Linked DNA regions of Homo sapiens. The protein of the gene in region 1 interacts with the protein of each later gene in a biochemical or structural test. Each region holds a gene or a part of one and is shown on either strand. Other genes may lie near its edges.

What was found.
Region 2: the proteins of STIP1 (region 1) and FKBP5 form a complex in vitro, tested with the Homo sapiens proteins (one study listed by BioGRID).
Region 3: the proteins of STIP1 (region 1) and HSP90AA1 form a complex in vitro, tested with the Homo sapiens proteins (9 studies listed by BioGRID).

Annotation. Positions count from the first base shown.
Region 1 is NC_000011.10:64,181,851-64,189,189, reverse strand, and holds the start of STIP1 (stress-induced-phosphoprotein 1), read right to left. Parts: upstream 3,020-7,339; 5' UTR 2,929-3,019; coding exon 2,920-2,928; intron 1-2,919. UniProt on the Homo sapiens protein: Acts as a co-chaperone for HSP90AA1. Mediates the association of the molecular chaperones HSPA8/HSC70 and HSP90.
Region 2 is NC_000006.12:35,573,882-35,580,915, reverse strand, and holds part of FKBP5 (peptidyl-prolyl cis-trans isomerase FKBP5), read left to right. Parts: exon of another isoform or gene 1-359; intron 360-694; coding exon 695-880; intron 881-3,682; coding exon 3,683-3,922; intron 3,923-4,973; coding exon 4,974-5,081; 3' UTR 5,082-7,034. UniProt on the Homo sapiens protein: Immunophilin protein with PPIase and co-chaperone activities. Component of unligated steroid receptors heterocomplexes through interaction with heat-shock protein 90 (HSP90).
Region 3 is NC_000014.9:102,080,208-102,084,044, forward strand, and holds the end of HSP90AA1 (heat shock protein HSP 90-alpha), read right to left. Parts: intron 3,777-3,837; coding exon 3,586-3,776; intron 3,487-3,585; coding exon 3,339-3,486; intron 3,096-3,338; coding exon 2,827-3,095; intron 2,238-2,826; coding exon 1,904-2,237; intron 1,615-1,903; coding exon 1,505-1,614; 3' UTR 535-1,504; downstream 1-534. UniProt on the Homo sapiens protein: Molecular chaperone that promotes the maturation, structural maintenance and proper regulation of specific target proteins involved for instance in cell cycle control and signal transduction.

The DNA.
Region 1 (7,339 bases):
AGGGTTTCACCATATTGGCCAGGCTGGTCTTGAGCTCCTGACCTCGTGATCCACCCGCCTCAACCTCCCAAAGTGTTGGGATTACAGGCGTGAGCCAGCACGCCCGGCCCAGTTTTTCTTTTTTCTTTTGTATTTTTACTAGAGACGGGGTTTCACCATGCTGGACAGGTTGGTCTCAAACTCCTGACCTCATGATCCGCCCACCTCGGCCTCCCAAAGTGCTGGGATTACAAGTGTGAGCCACTGCACCCGGCCCAACTTGAGTATTTTCTAAACTGAAATACAAACCTCACAGTTGAAAATGAAAACAAAAGGTAGAGAAATCGTGTTTGTTTTCAGGAATGGCTTCCAGATGGTGGGCTCAAACACACCTGGGATTAAATGCCAGGTCATCTGTACAGCTGCCATGCCAGTTTGCTGTCCTAAGTCAAATATTCATTCACCATCTACCTACCTGTACATACACTTCTATCACCAGTAGTGGTAATTTAAAAACAAACATTTTAAGACCAGGCAAGGTGACTCACGCCTGTAATCCTAGTGCTAATGAAGTGGGAGGCCAAGGCTAGAGGATTGCTTGAGCCTAGAAATTCGAGACCAGCCTGGGAAACAGCAAGAGCCCCGTCTCTACAAAAAATGTTAAAATTAGCCAGTTGTGGTGGTGTGCCCAGCTACTCAGGAGAGTGAGGCAGGAGGATCGCTTGAGGCCAGGAACTTGAGGCTGCAGTGAGCTATGATCCCACCAGGGCACTTCAGCCTGGGCCACAGAACCAGACCCTGTCTCTAAAAAAAATACAAAATAAATTTGGTAACAGAAATCGTTTCTTTTCTTTTTTTTTTTTTTTTGAGATGGAGTCTCACTCTGTCACCCAGGCTAGAGTGCAGTGGCGTGATCACAGCTCACTGCAACCTACGCCTCCCGGGTTGAAGCAATTCTCCTATCTCAGCCTCTCCAATAGCTGGGATTACAGGCCTGCGCCATGACCCGCTAATTTTTGTACTTTTAGTAGAGAGGGGGTTTCACCATGTTGGCCAGGCTGGTGTAGAACTCCTGACCTCAGGTGATTCGCCCACCTTGGCCTCCCAAAGTGCTAGGATTATAAGCGTGAGCCACTGCGCCCAGCCGAGATCCTTTTTTTTTTTTTTTTTTTTGAGACGGAGTCTCGCTCTGTGGCCCAGGCTGGAGGGAGACGGAGTCTCGCTCTATGGCCCAGGCTGGAGTGCAGTGGCGCAATCTCGGCTCACTGCAAGCTGCCCCCAGGGTTCACGTCATTCTCCTGCCTCAGCCTCCCGAGTAGCTGGGACTACAGGCTCCCGCCACCACGCCCGGCTAATTTTTCTTCTGTATTTTTAGTAGAGACGGGGTTTCACTGTGCTAGCCAGGATGGTCTCGATCTCCTGACCTCGTGATCCGCCTGCCTCGGCCTCCCAAAGTGCTGGGATTACAGGCTGAGCCACGGTGCCCGGCCCCAGATCCTTTCTTAAAGGTAAAAGAGCAACGTCTTATTCCAGAAATCTTTTCCTCACCTATACTACAGCCCATTTAACCCTAGATACAACTGAAATATTATATGGGCACAAAAAAGTTTACTAACTTCATTTCCACTCTTTTTAATACAGCAAGGAAGCTCGAGCTTTGCCTAAAGCAGCAACTGCTACAAGAGACCAAAGGCTCAGCTCTGTAGCTCACACCAAAAAAAGGATGGTAGTCACTAGTCCATCGAGATGTCTTATTTAAGGGGAGAGTGTGGGCGATCTTAGTTTTATGGCCCTGAAGTAAGAACCAGATACCAGGTATAGTTTCAGAATTGTCACCCCCAAGTGTTATGGGCCCGGAGCGAAGACAGTAGTACTCCCGAGCGGGAGGATGATTTCTCGGAGGTTGGTAGAGGTTTCTTGGAGGTTGTTTTGTCCTTTTTCTTCCGATGAATCATTACAGCTCAATGACAGCTTCAAATCGAACAAAACCTCTAGGCCTTTCATAACCGCAAGCTACTGAGGACATAACCAAGTCACTGAAAGGAAGCAGCAACCGCTTCAAACTCGGCCCCTCAAATGCTCAGTAGAGGCCCATAACTTCCAGCGGTTGATCTCTGTAAATTGTCTACAACCACCCCCGGGTCGTCAGAAACCCATCTTTCAGACCCACCTTTCGGAAGTGTTGGTCCTCGGTCACTCGACAATCACACACACAAGCATACAAAAAGAGGGGGAGGGGCCGCAATACATTTGTAAAACACTGTCAGAGATGGAATTCGTCCCAAGGACTTTTGCGGCACCCTTCCCTTTCCCGCATCAGGTAGAGTCGGTCTGTCGCTCCTCAGACCCCCGCTCAACGCTCTCCCACCCTGACCTTCTCAGATGTAGAAGAGTAACATTTGCCCCAACTGCATCCCAGGCTGCTAAGATCCTCGGCTACTCCCAGTGTATCCCCGTCCCCGCTCCCTGGATCCGTCCAAGTTCCTCGTGGCTAAGTCCCGAGCGGTTTCTCCGTCGGCCGTCTGAGATCTCCCGGAGGGCTACCTCGCGGGTGCGGACCCCGGCCCCCGGCCCACCTCCACCCCGCCCCCTGCGGCCCGCACCCTCCCCAACATGGCCCGCAGCCGCCCCCTCGGGACGCCTTCAGGGCCCGGTCGCGACCCCTCTTCCCGCCGCCGGCCGGACTCACCCAAGCTGTGGCCTCCGCCGGGCCCTCCTCGCCCAACCAGGGGGCGATGGGCGCTCCCCGCGGCCGGCCTCGCTAAAGATCCCGCTCCCGCCCGCCGCCCGCGGCCCTCACCTCCCCGCCGCCGCCCCGTCCGGCCCCAGCGCCGAGCTCCGGTCTCCTGGATCCGGCGCCCGCCCCGCCCCCCTACCGCGGCCTGGCCACCGCCGGTCCCCGAGCAGGCTCGGGGCCTCAGCCCGCCCCTCCCCCTTCACCTGCTCCATAGCGCAGCGCGGTCCGGAACCCCGTTGAATCGAATCCGTCCGCTCCGCGTTCCCAACCGCACGCGCCGCCTTCTGGAACCTACTAGAAGCTACCGGGACCCCGGCTCCCGCCCCTTCCTCGCCTGCTCACTGGTCGAGTTCTTCTAGGGGGAATGTCTGTGCTGCTCTACTATTGGCTTGAGGTCCAGCCCATCATCTCCACTTCCTTCTCATTGGACAGCGGGGAGTAATTCCCTCAACCCTGCCTCCCCCGCACCTCAGGATTGGGCGCTCCTCTATAAACCCACCCATCTCAGGCTCCACGAATGGAGGGAGGAGCGAACTTCTGCGACACGGATTGGTCTTTTGCACTGCCAATCGTAGCCGCGCTGGCCGCGCCCATTGGTTCTGATCGTTCTGGAAATTTCCACCTCTCCCATTGGGCTGCCGGACTCCATGTCGGAACCGCCTTCAGAATGAGAGCGATTCCAATTGGGCGGAGGGTTGCCAACTCTTTGCGCTGATTGGTTTAAATCGCTGCCCTTCAAAAGGCCGGGTTTCGCCCCGCCCCTGATATATGGGAGTACCGGCTGCAGTCGGGGTCTGTAGCTGTGTCGCCGGCGGCTGCGGGGCCTCTGGGTTGCTTTCCCTCTCGCTCCCGAGTGCCGCGAGTTCCAGGCGGTCCCCGGGATCGCCAGCGGCACAGGGCCCCAGCCCTTCGCCCGCGCATCGGGATGGGGGTCCTAGCCGGTGGGAGCTGCCTGTCCCTCGAGCGCCAGCTACCCGCGTTGTCCAGCGCTCCGGCCTCGGCCCGGCCCTCCTGCCTCCTGGCTGTTAGGTTCTGAATGTTCCGGAAATGCCACGTGACCGCGAGGGCGCTTGGGCTTGGGCTGGACAGGCCGGGGATCTCACCGCGGCGGGCCCGGCTGTCCCGCTTGGGCGTCCTCAGTGGAACCGCACACCCTTTCTCAGCGCGCCGGTCGTTTGGTCCTGTAGGGCCGAGGGGAATTCGTGCGGTGTTGAGCACGCGGGAAGCACTTAACGAAAGGGAGCTGCCCCTCAGCCCTCGTGAGTCCGATGTAAAGGAGTGAAGGAGACGAAGAACTGAATCAGTAGTTGACCGCCTGTGAGCTGGCGAGCTGTGCCCTGGTAGGGCCTTAAATCCCAGCCCCAGAAGTCGGAGGCAGGGCAGGCACCCCAAAGCGTGGAAGAGATGCACCTGCGGAGTGAAAATGCTGCTATTGCTTCTAGGGTCAGCCTTGGTTCCTGGAACAAAGGAGCCGCATGACTCGGGTCTGGCGATGATGTTGGGCTCTGCAGTGTCCTCATCCTTCCCCCTCTCTGGGTAATGATATCTTCCCAGGGTTTAAAGTGTGTCCTCTCTGCCAGTAGCTTGTCTCCACAGCCTCATCTTTAATTCCACCTGCCCCACCCATTTTGGACACTGCAGCCAAGTTGCAGCAGATCCGCAAACCTGGTAATCCCTCACTTGAAAGTGCTGGAGGCTTTAGGATGGGGTTCAGGGCCTGTGCAATCTAACCGCCTGCTTTTTTTTTTTTTTTTTTTTTTTTTTTTTTGAGACGGAGTCGAATCTCACTGTCTCCCAGGCTGGAGTGCAGTGGCGCCATCACAGCTCATTGCAGCCTCAACCTCCTGAGCTCAAGCCATCCTCCCACCTCAGCCTCCCAAGTACCTGGGGTTACAGGCAAGCACCATTACGCCTAGCTAATTTTTCTGGGTTTTTTTTTTTTGTTTTTTTTTTTGTATAGATGGATTTCGCCATGTTGTCCAGGCTGGTCTTAAACTCTCGCTCTGTCTCCCAGGCTAGAGTGCAGTGGGGCAATCTCGGCTCCCTGCAACCTCTGCCTCCTGGGTTCAAGCAATTATCCTGCCTCAGCCTACCAGTTAGCTGGGATTACATGTGTGCGCCACCGCGCCCGGCTAATTTTTTTATTTTTAGTAGAGGCGGGGTTTCACCATGTTGACCAGGCTGGTCTCAAGACTACTGACCTCAAGTGATCCCCCCCCCCCCCCGCCTCGGCCTCCCAAAGTGCTGGGATTACAGACGTGAGCCACCGTGCCCAGCGGTTTTGCATTTTCAATTGTGGGGCACGGTGAGAAAAGACTTGAAGAAAGCAAGGGAGTGAGATCCATGGAAATGTAGGGGGGAACCTTGCAGGCCTATGGAACAGCCAGTGCAAAGGGCCTGGGGTGGGAGCTGCCTCAGGGTAGCCAGGATGGCAGGAGGCACAGCTGCCGAGAGGAAGCAGGGGCCAGGTCCTGCAAGGTTAGAGGCCATTGCTACTCCTGAACACATTGGCAGGTTTTGAGCAGAGAAGTGACATGATTTTAGTTTTCTCAGGATCCCTCTGGCTGCTGTGTGGAGGAAGAGGGGAGGGTGAGAGCAGGGATACCTCTTAGGAGGCTGTGGTAGTAATCCCAGGGAGCCAGGATGGGAGCAGAGGAGGGGACAGGAATTGGATTCTGGATGCATTTTGGAGGGAGCATGAAGGAAAGCGGGGTCAAAGGTTCCTCTGAGGCCTTGGCTGCCTCTCTTATTCATCTACATCCATTCTGTCAAGGACACCTTTCATTTCTTCTTGGCACTGTCTCAAGGCCACCACGCTGCTGCCCACCTGACCAGCAGTGGCCTTTCCAGGCCTTCCATCTTCTCCCCAGCAGCTTATCTCTGCGTAGCCAGGTCCCATTTCCCACACACCTTTTTTTAAAGTGTGTTGCACTGCTCTGGGTGCAGGACTGTAGCAGTGACCAGGGCAGCTCCAGATGAAGCTTCTGCTCACAGGAACCTTTTCTACTGAAACAGATGATACCTAAACTCTCAGCTGTGTGACTTTAAGCAACTTGCACAACCTCTCTGTACTTCAGTTGCCTCCATCTTCAAATGGGGATTAAAAAGTGTTGACATCATAGTGGTTGTGAGGATTACATGATTTGATAGTTTATAAAGCACTTAGAACTTGTGAAGAAGAGTGCCTGGGGATTGCCTAAGGTCAGGAGTTCAAGACCAGCCTGGCCAACATGGAGAAACCTCATCTCTGCTAAAAATACAAAAACTAACCACGCATGGTAGTGCACACCTCTAGTCCCAGCTACTTGGGGGGCTGAGGCAGGAGAATCACTTGAACCTGGGAGGTGGAGATTGCAGTGAGCCAAGATTGCGCCACTGCACTCCAGCCTGGGCAACAGAGCAAGACTCGGTCTCCAAAGAAAAAAAAAGAACTGCCTGGCTACGGAATAAGAACTACATGGAGTTATTAAATCAAAATCGGTGCACAAATGATAATTCTTAAGAGTGAGTGCTACAGAGAACACAAAAGGCAAGGCACAGAGAGATGACCTGGGAGGCAGGGAAGGAAAGCATTCCCAGAGGTGAGTGGTTAGTGAAGGCTTGTCAGAGATGGGACGAGGAGAAGCCTAGGGGGCACAGAAGATGCAAAGGTGCTGAGGCCAGGGCAAATTCAGAATTTTTTTTTTTTTTGAGATGGAGTCTCGCTCTGTCTCCCAGGCTGGAGTTCAGTGGTGCAATCTCGGCTCACTGCAACCTCCACCTCCTGGGTCCAAGCAATTATCTGCCTCAGCCTCCAGAGTAGCTGGGATTACAGGCATCCACCACCACGCCCGGCTAATTTTTGTGTTTTCAGTAGAGACAGGATTTCACCATCTTGGCCAGGCTGGTCTTGAACTCCTGGCCTCATGATCCACATGCCTCAGCCTCCCAAAGTGCTGGGATTACAGGCGTGAGCCACCGCGCCCAACCCAGAATTCTCTTTTTTTGGGGGGGGGTGGGGGACAGAGTCTCACTCTGTCATCCAGGCTGGAGTGCAGTAGCGCGATCTTAGCTCACTGCAACCTCTGCCTCCCAGGTTCAAGCGATTCTGCCTCAGCCTCCCGAGTAACTGGGATTATAGATGCCCGCCACTACGCCTGGCTAATTTTTTTTTTTTTTTTGTATTTTTAGTAGAGATGGGGTTTTACCATGTTGGCCAGGCTGGTCTCAAACTCATTACCTCCAGTGATCCACCTGCCCTGGCCTGCCAAAGTGTTGGGATTACACAGGCGTGAGCCACCATGCCTGGCCCTGGCCCAGAATTTTCAAGAAATCTAAGGAAGGCTTTTTTGTGCTCTAAGTGTCCTTGTCTGTAAGGTAGGGGGGATAAAGTGCCCTTGACTTCCCAAGGTTACTATGCAGATTGAACAATATAATCCTCCCGGGTTGGCCTTGAGTCTTGTCAGACCTGAAGCTTATGACAATTTGAGAGCTCGCTTTGAGAAAAGAAACACAAAAAATGAGGTGTGTGGCTTTAGAAGGAGCACAAATGGGGTCCCCGATGTTTAAGCTGCTTTAGTGTTACAGTAAAGCCACCTCTGAATACCCAGAAGTGTTAGCTCTTACAACTTCCACCAACTCAGT
Region 2 (7,034 bases), on another chromosome or scaffold:
AAAGTAACTTCCTTTTCATTTTTTTAGTGGCATAGTCTAAAACTGCTCACAATCCTTTTGAAAGACTAAAGAATAGGCCAGGTGTGGTGGCTCATGCCTGTAATCCCAGCACTTTGGGAGGCCAAGGCAGGCGGATCACAAGGTCAGGAGTTCAAGACCAGCCTGGCCAACATAGTGAAACGCTGTCTCTACTAAAAATACAAAAAAAAATAGCTGGGCTTGGTGGCGGCCACCTGTAGTCCCCAGCTACTCGGGAGGCTGAGGCAGGAGAATCGCTGGAACCCGGGAGGCGGAGGTTGCAGTGAGCTGAGATGGCGCCATTGCACTCCAGCCCTGGAGACAGTGCGAGACTGTGTCTCAAAAAAAAAAAAAAAAAAAAAAAAAAAAAAGACTAAAGAATATTAGCACCAAAGAACATAGCCCAGAAGCCTTGCTGTACTACACCTGCTGAAGGGACGGATGGAAATGCTGCAGAGCAGCACTAGGCAGTGCTCAGGCACTGCCCCAAACCAGCCCACAGGCCATCGAGGCCTCCAAGGGAGTGGGAAAGGTACCTGGAGAGCCATCTCCAGAAGGAAAGAAAGAAACCAGCTGTACCAGGGTTTGCTGGAGGGGTTGCTTCACTTTGAGGATTTGCTTTTCTTTTGTACCCCCTCAAGAGCTGAGTACAAGTAATGACGCTTTTTTATCCTAGGGAGGCAAATACATGCAGGCGGTGATTCAGTATGGGAAGATAGTGTCCTGGTTAGAGATGGAATATGGTTTATCAGAAAAGGAATCGAAAGCTTCTGAATCATTTCTCCTTGCTGCCTTTCTGAACCTGGCCATGTGCTACCTGAAGCTTAGAGAATACACCAAAGCTGTTGAATGCTGTGACAAGGTAACATCGTGTCTCCTGTGAGATGGACTTTAGATACTCCAGATCTTTTCTCCATCTCTGTCTTTTGCTTCCTCTCAGCCAAAGGTTGCAGGATTTTTCATTTTGCTTTTTTTTATTTATTTGAATGTTTGGGATTATTTGTTTCTCAGTATGAATTGGGAAATTCAGCAAGATTTTTATTACAGTCAGACTTTTATGATACCTAGACTGTTTATCATAATGCATTCTGAAGAAAAGTTTTGATTAAAATTAAATAATTTTTATCCACGACCTTCCTTATAACTGTAGTATTTATATCAGAGTAGACGTATAACTCCTCAGGTTCAGTTTAATAAGAGAAGATTTAACTTAAGCTTTTCTGGACTTTAACAGACTGCAACTGTTCATATAAAGCATATATATAGGTCAATTTTTATTATAATCATTTATTCACTGATATGCATAAATAATATGAAAGGTCCACAGAGCATCAGCAGCCTTTTTATTTTTACATTTGTCTTATTAATACTATCTTTGGTCTTTTGAGTGCTTACACACAGTACTCTATAACAGTGGTTTATCATCTGTATCGTTATGTATCGTTCTGATATATTTATACACCAGCCGATACTATTTTAGGTATCTGGTCTCAGAGTGAACAGTATATATTATACTGTGGGTAAAAGTAAAAACTAATCATTGGATGTATCTTAAAGGTAGACATAAAAGGATAAGAAAAGCAAGGCAACTATTTTGTACATTCTTTGTGAGATTATTTTTGAATTTTGTGGATCAGTGTTTCCTATCGCATCCTCTCTCCCAAGACCAGTTATTAATTTTATATGTATTTTTTCGTTTTTTTCATACAGAGCGGAGAGAGAGAGAGAGAGAGTGTGTGCGCGCGCGCGTGTGTGTGTTTTGTTTGTTTTAGAGACAAGTTGTTGCTATTTTGCCCAGGCTGGGGTGCGGTGGCTATTAATACACATGAACATAATGTACTACAGCCTCAAACTCTGGGGCCCAAGCTATCCTCCCACCTCAGCCTCCTGAGTAGCTGGGACTACAAGTGCATGCCACCACACCCTGCTAATTTTTAAATTTACTTTTGTAGAGATGGGGGTCTTCCAAAGAGCTGGGATTAAAGTTGTGAGGTACCACACCCAGCACAGCCTTGACTACATTATTTTTCTGTCTTCTATTGACAGAAGCAGTCATATAGCATCACTATTAACCCTATCTTTGGCAATAGGAAGCCTGTTCTCCTTATTTTCCTCTTTTTTTTTTTTTTGGAGATGGAGTCTTTCTCTGTTACCCAGTCTGGAGTGCAATGGCACAATCTTGGCTCACTCTAACCTCCACCTCCCGAGTTCAAGCGATTCTCCTGCCTCAGCCTCCCAAGTAGCTTAGACCACAGGTGCCGACCACCACACCAGGCTAATTTTTGTATTTTTAGTAGAGACAGGGTTTCACCATGTTGGCCCGGCTGGTTTCCAATTCCTGACCTCAGGTGATTTGCCACCTCAGCTTCCCAAAGTGCTGGGATTACAGGTGTGAGCCACCACAACCCAGCAATTTTCTTTTAGCTTTGTTGATTATATCTTTCTCTTTAAAGAAGGTTTTAATGTTTATGTAGTCAGATTTGTCGTCTCCTTTCTAGTTAGAAAAGACTTCCCCACACCAAGATTATAAAAATAACTGAAGCCAGGCACAGTGGTTTACACCTGTGACCTGTAACCCCAGGACTTTCGGAGGCTGAGGCGAGAGGATTGCCTGAGCCCAGGAGATAGAGGCTGCAGTGAGCTGTGATTGAGCCACTGCCCTCCAGCCTGGGCGACAGAGTGAGACCCTGCCTCAAAAAAATAATGATTATATTTTACATATTTTAAAATAAAAAATAATTGAAACATTTTATGGTTTTTTTTAATATGTAAATATGGTTGATCTAGAATTTACTTTTGTGCTTACAATATGAGGTAAGAACTTTTTTTTTTTTTTTTTTTTGGAGACAAGAGTCTCACTCTGTCACCCAGCCTGGAGTGCAGTGGCACGATCTCAGCCCACTCCAACCTCCACCTCCCTGGTTCAAGCAATTCTCCTGCCTCAGCCTCCCAAGTAGCTGGGATTACAGGCGCCTGCCACCATGCCCAGCTAATTTTTGTATTTTCAGTAGAGACAGGATTTCGCCATGTTGGCCAGGCTGGTCTCGAACTCCTCACCTCAGGTGATCACCTGCCTCAGCCTCCCAAAGTGCTGGGATTAGGGTGTGAACCACTGCACCCGGCCTTAACTCTTATTTTCTATGTGGATAGCTGCCATCCTGGCCCCGTTTATTTTAAAGTTAACTCTCCACTGATTCACATTACCACCTTTGTCATTTTCAAATGTTTTTATATGCAGACACATGACTGTTTCTGAATGATTCGTTCTGTTCCACTGAGCTGTTTGTCCACATGCTAGTAACCAAACTGTCTTAATTTCAGTAGTTTTAAAGTTTGTCTTTTTCTCTGGTAAGACAAGTGCCTCTTATTTTTTTCTTTTTTCCCAAATTTTTTCAGCCATTCTTGGGCACTTATTTGTTCCAATGAACTTTAAAATGAACTTCTCAAGAGCCCCCTCTCAAATCTCCTTGGGATCTTTCTAGAAATTGCATTAAATGCAGAAAATAATTTGGGTAGTAAATTTTGATCAGTAGTATGTAATTATCTTGAGCCCCATTTTTTTAAATACACTTTTTCCATCTCCTTTGGCAAGAGAACTTTGGTAAGCTGTTTACTGAATTTATTAAAATTCGTCCTTTCTAAAATATAGACCATCTATTCCTAGGCCCTTGGACTGGACAGTGCCAATGAGAAAGGCTTGTATAGGAGGGGTGAAGCCCAGCTGCTCATGAACGAGTTTGAGTCAGCCAAGGGTGACTTTGAGAAAGTGCTGGAAGTAAACCCCCAGAATAAGGCTGCAAGACTGCAGATCTCCATGTGCCAGAAAAAGGCCAAGGAGCACAACGAGCGGGACCGCAGGATATACGCCAACATGTTCAAGAAGTTTGCAGAGCAGGATGCCAAGGTGTGTGCAGAGCCTGATGACTGCAGGTGGATCAAGAGCCTGACCATGCCCCTTTGATTTTAGGGGACAGGAACAGCTAAACAACCCAAGAGGCTCAAGAGCAGGGAAAACGATTTCCAATCTAATCTGAGGCTGCTTTGGATCCAAAGGTCGAGTAGGGCAGTTCCAGTCACCAAAGGCACACGTCATGAGAGATGAGAAAACTAAATTCCCTTCAGATGTATTAGATTGGTTCAAAAGTAATTGTGGTTTTTACCATTACTTTCAATGGCAAAAACAGCAATTTTGCACCAACTCCCCCCGCCCGCCCCCCGGGCCCCTGCCCGAGTCAGAGTCTCACTCTGTCACCCAGACTGTAATGCAGTCGTGCTAACATGGCTCACTGCAGCCTTGACTTCTCTGGATCAAGTGATCCTCCCACCTCAGCCTCCTGAGTAGCTAGGACAAGCACACTACCACACTGGGCTAATTTTTTAAAATTTTTTGTAAAGATAGGGTTTCACTTTGTTGTCTAGGCTGGTCTCGAACCCCTGGCTTCAAGGGTTCCTCCTGCTTTGGTCTCCCAAAGTGCTGGGATTATAGACATGAGCCACCATGCCCAGCCCTTTTGTCATTTTTGAAAAATTGTAAACCCATCAGGATTTTTTTTTCAAGTAAGACTTACGATTTTCCCAGGAAATGGGATGTTATAGGAGCCCCATCATCACACCTGTTATCTTGAGGGTCGGCAGCCAGCCTGAAAAATGTGGCAGGAGAGGTCTGTCTGCAGAGAGGGCGGCCTCCCTACAGCATAGTTGGCATTCTGGTCCTGTCCCCAGTCTCCAGGAATGCCCAGACTTCATTATCCCACAGCTGTCCCATGTGTCAACCAAAGAAAGGTGAAGCTCCCACTCTAACTATTGGTAGCACAGCCCTGACCTACCCAGCTAGATATCCTAGAGAAAATCATTGCAATACCTCGTGTTTGGGACCTGATACACAGTCTGGAGGAGCCAGGAATTATTTCACTTCTTTATTCTCTAACCTTCTTGATTGCTTATTTCTTCCTTAGGAAGAGGCCAATAAAGCAATGGGCAAGAAGACTTCAGAAGGGGTCACTAATGAAAAAGGAACAGACAGTCAAGCAATGGAAGAAGAGAAACCTGAGGGCCACGTATGACGCCACGCCAAGGAGGGAAGAGTCCCAGTGAACTCGGCCCCTCCTCAATGGGCTTTCCCCCAACTCAGGACAGAACAGTGTTTAATGTAAAGTTTGTTATAGTCTATGTGATTCTGGAAGCAAATGGCAAAACCAGTAGCTTCCCAAAAACAGCCCCCCTGCTGCTGCCCGGAGGGTTCACTGAGGGGTGGCACGGGACCACTCCAGGTGGAACAAACAGAAATGACTGTGGTGTGGAGGGAGTGAGCCAGCAGCTTAAGTCCAGCTCATTTCAGTTTCTATCAACCTTCAAGTATCCAATTCAGGGTCCCTGGAGATCATCCTAACAATGTGGGGCTGTTAGGTTTTACCTTTGAACTTTCATAGCACTGCAGAAACCTTTAAAAAAAAAATGCTTCATGAATTTCTCCTTTCCTACAGTTGGGTAGGGTAGGGGAAGGAGGATAAGCTTTTGTTTTTTAAATGACTGAAGTGCTATAAATGTAGTCTGTTGCATTTTTAACCAACAGAACCCACAGTAGAGGGGTCTCATGTCTCCCCAGTTCCACAGCAGTGTCACAGACGTGAAAGCCAGAACCTCAGAGGCCACTTGCTTGCTGACTTAGCCTCCTCCCAAAGTCCCCCTCCTCAGCCAGCCTCCTTGTGAGAGTGGCTTTCTACCACACACAGCCTGTCCCTGGGGGAGTAATTCTGTCATTCCTAAAACACCCTTCAGCAATGATAATGAGCAGATGAGAGTTTCTGGATTAGCTTTTCCTATTTTCGATGAAGTTCTGAGATACTGAAATGTGAAAAGAGCAATCAGAATTGTGCTTTTTCTCCCCTCCTCTATTCCTTTTAGGGAATAATATTCAATACACAGTACTTCCTCCCAGCATTGCTACTGCTCAGCTTCTTCTTTCATTCTAATCCTTGCTATTAAGAATTTAAGACTTGTGCTTACAATATTTTTGACCTGGAGTGGATCTATTTACATAGTCATTTAGGATCCATGCAGCTTTTTTTGTCTTTTTAAGATTATTGGCTCATAAGCATATGTATACTGGTTTATGGAACTTTATTTACACTCCTCTATCATGCAAAAAAATTTTGACTTTTTAGTACTAAGCTTAATTTTTAAAAACAAAATCTGTAGGGTTGACAAATAAATAGTTGCTCTTCTACACTAGGGGTTTCACCTGCAGGTTTGACACGCAGTTGCTCGCTTTTCCTGCCCTGTCAAGCTTCTCTGTTCTGGCGTGAGTTGTGAAAGAGTTGAAGACAGCTTCCCATGCCGGTACACAGCCAGTAGCCTAAATCTCCAGTACTTGAGCTGACCATTGAACTAGGGCAAGTCTTAAATGTGTACATGTAGTTGAATTTCAGTCCTTACGGGTAAACAGATTGAGCATGGCTCTCTATTCCCTCAGCCTAAGAAACACTCATGGGAATGCATTTGGCAACCCAAGGAACCATTTGCTTAAACCTGGAACATCTCACCTTTTTAAATCCTAAAAAACACTGGCAGTTATATTTTAAATTAGTTTTTATTTTTATGATGGTTTTATCAAAAGACTTTTATTATTAGATTGGGACCCCCTTCAAACCTAAAAATCAAGTTATTTCCTTTTATAATACTTTTCTTCCCCATGGAACAAATGGGATCAATTTGTGAGTTTTTTCCTTTAATGATAACTAAAATCCCTCTAATTTCTCATTTATGCTTTTGTCTTTTTTATGAAATATTTCTTTTAAAAGCCCCAGTCTCACCTACGAAATATGAAGAGCAAAAGCTGATTTTGCTTACTTGCTAAACTGTTGGGAAAGCTCTGTAGAGCATGGTTCCAGTGAGGCCAAGATTGAAATTTGATACTAAAAAGGCCACCTAGCTTTTTGCAGATAACAAACAAGAAAGCTATTCCAAGACTCAGATGATGCCAGCTGTCTCCCACGTGTGTATTATGGTTCACCAGG
Region 3 (3,837 bases), on another chromosome or scaffold:
ATTCAGCCACTACTAAGACCTCAATTTACGTAATTCCTCCTGTATATTATCGAAGGGGATTAAGAACTTTTCAGAGAATTTAAAGGACTAAACGTGATTGCCATTTACCAAGCATTCAATACCTGCTTAGCACGAGACTGAGACAAGGTCTCTCCCTGCCTGTGCACTGCCCCCTTAGACACTGTCACATATCCAAGTCCCAGGCATTTCCTATCATTTTTATATATGGCGTTAGGCTCAGAATGCAAATCCTATATGCTATCTAACCAAGTTTTGTCTCTAGAACCACCAAATTTCAGAAGTGAAGACTTTTATTTAGCCATTACCACCCCCAGTCCCCAGAGGGACTCTTACCTATTGGGCTGATTTTTTCATCTTTTTTTTGAGATGGAGTTTCGCTCTTGCTGCTCAGGCTGCAGCGCAATGGTGCAATCCCAGCCCACCGCAACCTCCGCCTCCCAGGTTCAAGCGATTCTCCTGCCTCAGCCAGGATGGCTTTAAGTAGATTTGTAAAGAACTTTGAGACACTGTAAGGCCAAGGAATTAAGTGACTGTATTTAACACAGAAGGTATTCCATGAATAACATCAAAACAACGTGGACACTAAGAGAACACATGTAACTCATGGACGCAGGGGATGCATGTTGTCTGCATTCCTGTTTTCTGTGCCTACGTGTGCTCCACCCCACACCTGCTGAGTACATGCTGGGAAGACCATGTCAACCCTTGGAGCAGCTAGTGTTTAACCATCTCCTGCTAGCGCCTCATGTTTTACATTTTGGCACTAACTGTCATCCAGATACTCCCCTTTCCCCCTAAATAAGACACTGTCACACAATATCTTTTAACTCATCTGTATTTGTTACAACTTTAAGCAGAATGTGACTCGAGCACTACATTTCCATCCACAAGACTGGGTCTGAGTTATTTTTGAACAGCTTTACGATATGCTTAGGTAGGCTTTTAACTTTGCTCCTCCAAACAATACTTTTCTTTGGAAAACAAGCCCTGTGGAGAGATCCTTCCATCAAGTTGCTTCAGTTTAACCTATTTCTAGAGGACTAGTACATGCAGAATTGTCAACTACAGGGAATGAAAAGTTCAAAAAGTAGATCCTACAAGATGTAACGAATACTTTTCTAAACATCAAGATACAGCTCAGAACACTTCAATAACAAGATTTGGTCTACTTAGGCATCCGGCTTGACAGCTAAACACTTTAGACCACAAAGTTAACATCATGTTACATACGTCTTACAGTGCACGTTACCCCAATCTGTGAAAATAAACCAACATGAAACTCAAAAAGCATTACTAGCTCTGCTTTAGTGCCTAAGGTATCACAGCATCACTTAGTAGACAGAAATCTTATCTTCCCCTTAAAGTAGTTGTCATGCCATACAGACTTTTTAATATTAACAAAAATAAAGAAAAACATCCTTGAAAATATATTATCAGAGGAATTGTAGAGTACTGAACAGGTAAGTCATCCCTCAGCCAGAGATTAGTCTACTTCTTCCATGCGTGATGTGTCGTCATCTCCTTCAAGGGGTGGCATTTCTTCAGTTACAGCAGCACTGGTATCATCAGCAGTAGGGTCATCTTCATCAATACCTGTTTCCAAAATAAAATCCTCATATTACAAAGATTTCTTAAAGCCAGCTATTAGGGTAATACTCTTGGTTTCTATCTGCTTTCAAGACAGTATTACAGGACATATGAGTCTCAATTTCATTTCTTTGCTCTTGTAAGACCTTACTTATCCCTAAAAAAAACATACTTTAATACCTCCAAGCAGCAAGCAGGACAAGGTGCTCCAAGTTTGGATAACTGAAAGTTCACCATTTTCTTCAATGTCACGTGTGTTTATTTTCTTTTTAACATTACATAGTATAAGGCTTACCCAGACCAAGTTTGATCATCCTGTAGATCCTGTTAGCATGTGTCTGGGGATCTTCCAGACTGAAGCCAGAAGACAGGAGCGCAGTTTCATAAAGCAAGATGACCAGATCCTTCACAGACTTGTCGTTCTTATCAGCCTCTGCCTTTTGCCTTAAGGTCTCAATAATGGAATGGTCAGGGTTTATCTCCAGGTGTTTCTTTGCTGCCATGTAACCCATTGTTGAGTTGTCTCTTAGGGCTTGAGCTTTCATGATTCTCTCCATGTTTGCTGTCCAGCCATATGTGCTTGTGACAATACAGCATGGAGATGTCACCAATCGGTTTGACACAACCACCTGTAATCAAAAAGTGATGACTAGGAACCTAGAAAGATTAATTCCTAAACTTTCATTGTGAAATGAAATCTGTAGAACCCAAATTTCAATAGATCCAAAATACTATCTACTGTCAAATACAACTTAAATGTCGCATTAGGTATCCAAAGAGCACAGGTTATAATTTCATGTTTTACATGCACAATTTTTTTTTTGAGATAGAGTCTCGCTCCATCACCCAGGCTGGAGTGCAGTGGTGCGATCTTGGCTCACTGCAACCTCCGCCTCCTGGGTTCAGGCGATTCTCCTGCCTCAGCCTCCCAAGTGGCTAGGATTACAGGCCGTGCCACCACGCCTGGTTTATTTTTTTCTATTTTTAGTAGAGACTGAGTTTCACCGTGTTAGCCAGGATGGTCTCGATCTCCTGACCTTGTGATCCGCTGCCTCAGCCTCCCAAAGTGCTGGGATTGCAGGCGTGAGCCACCGCGCCCAGCCACACACAACATAGTTTTCTGTTTTAAGTTGAAAACATGCGAAAATGGGCTATGTATGACTAAGCTTGAAAGCACCTTAGAAGTATCAATGATCAGGAAATGCTGTATTCACATACCTTTTCAACTTTTTTCTCCAATATGTCTTTCATGATTTTGCAGAGGTTCTCAAACTTTGTTTTTTTCTCTTCCTGCTTCTTTTTCTCTTCTTCATCCTCTGGAAGTTCCAGGCCTTCTTTGGTGACTGACACTAAAGTCTTCCCCTCAAATTCCTTCAGCTGTTGGACACAGTACTCATCAATGGGCTCAATCATATAGATCACTTCTAAGCCATGTTTCCGAAGACGTTCCACAAAGGCTGAGTTAGCTACCTGGTCCTTGGTCTCACCTGAGGTATTACAAAGTTACTTTTAGACCTTTTAACAGTTAAGAATGGTTTCATCTAGCTCTGACTTTTCTTGCTAGCCAGATACCTAGGCAGAACCTAAGACAGAAAATGACCTAGTTCATGTTAATTATCTTGCCTAGATCAATACCAGTTGTAACAGTGCTACCTGAGTAGAAAACACACCCACAGAGCCTACAAGATTGTAAGAACGACGTGTATGACTGTAACATAGTGTTCTCTTACCTGTGATATAATAGATATGTTTCTGGTTCTCCTTCATTCTGGTGCAGTAGTCCTTGAGAGAAACCATCTCATCACCAGAGGCAGATGTGTAGTACCTTAACAGCTCTGAAAGCTTCTTCCGATTTTGAGAGTCTTCGTGTATTCCAAGCTGAAACAAAGTATGTTCTTTACAAAGACTTTCTGAATTAAAAAAAAAAAAAAAAAACTAAAGAGGCCAATTGGAAAACTAATGGTTATTTACACCAACCTTTATGTTTTTAGAGAACTGCTCATAGAATTTCTTGTAGTTCTCTTTATCTTCCGCCAGTTCAGTAAAGAGTTCTAAGCATTTTTTGACCAAATTCTTCCTGATAACTTTCAAAATTTTGCTTTGTTGCAACATCTCACGGGATATGTTTAGAGGGAGATCCTCCGAGTCTACCACCCCTCTAATGAAGTCTGAAAAAAATATAAACCAAATGCACTGAGTCATTCCAAGGACAAAACTGGTACTATGTAA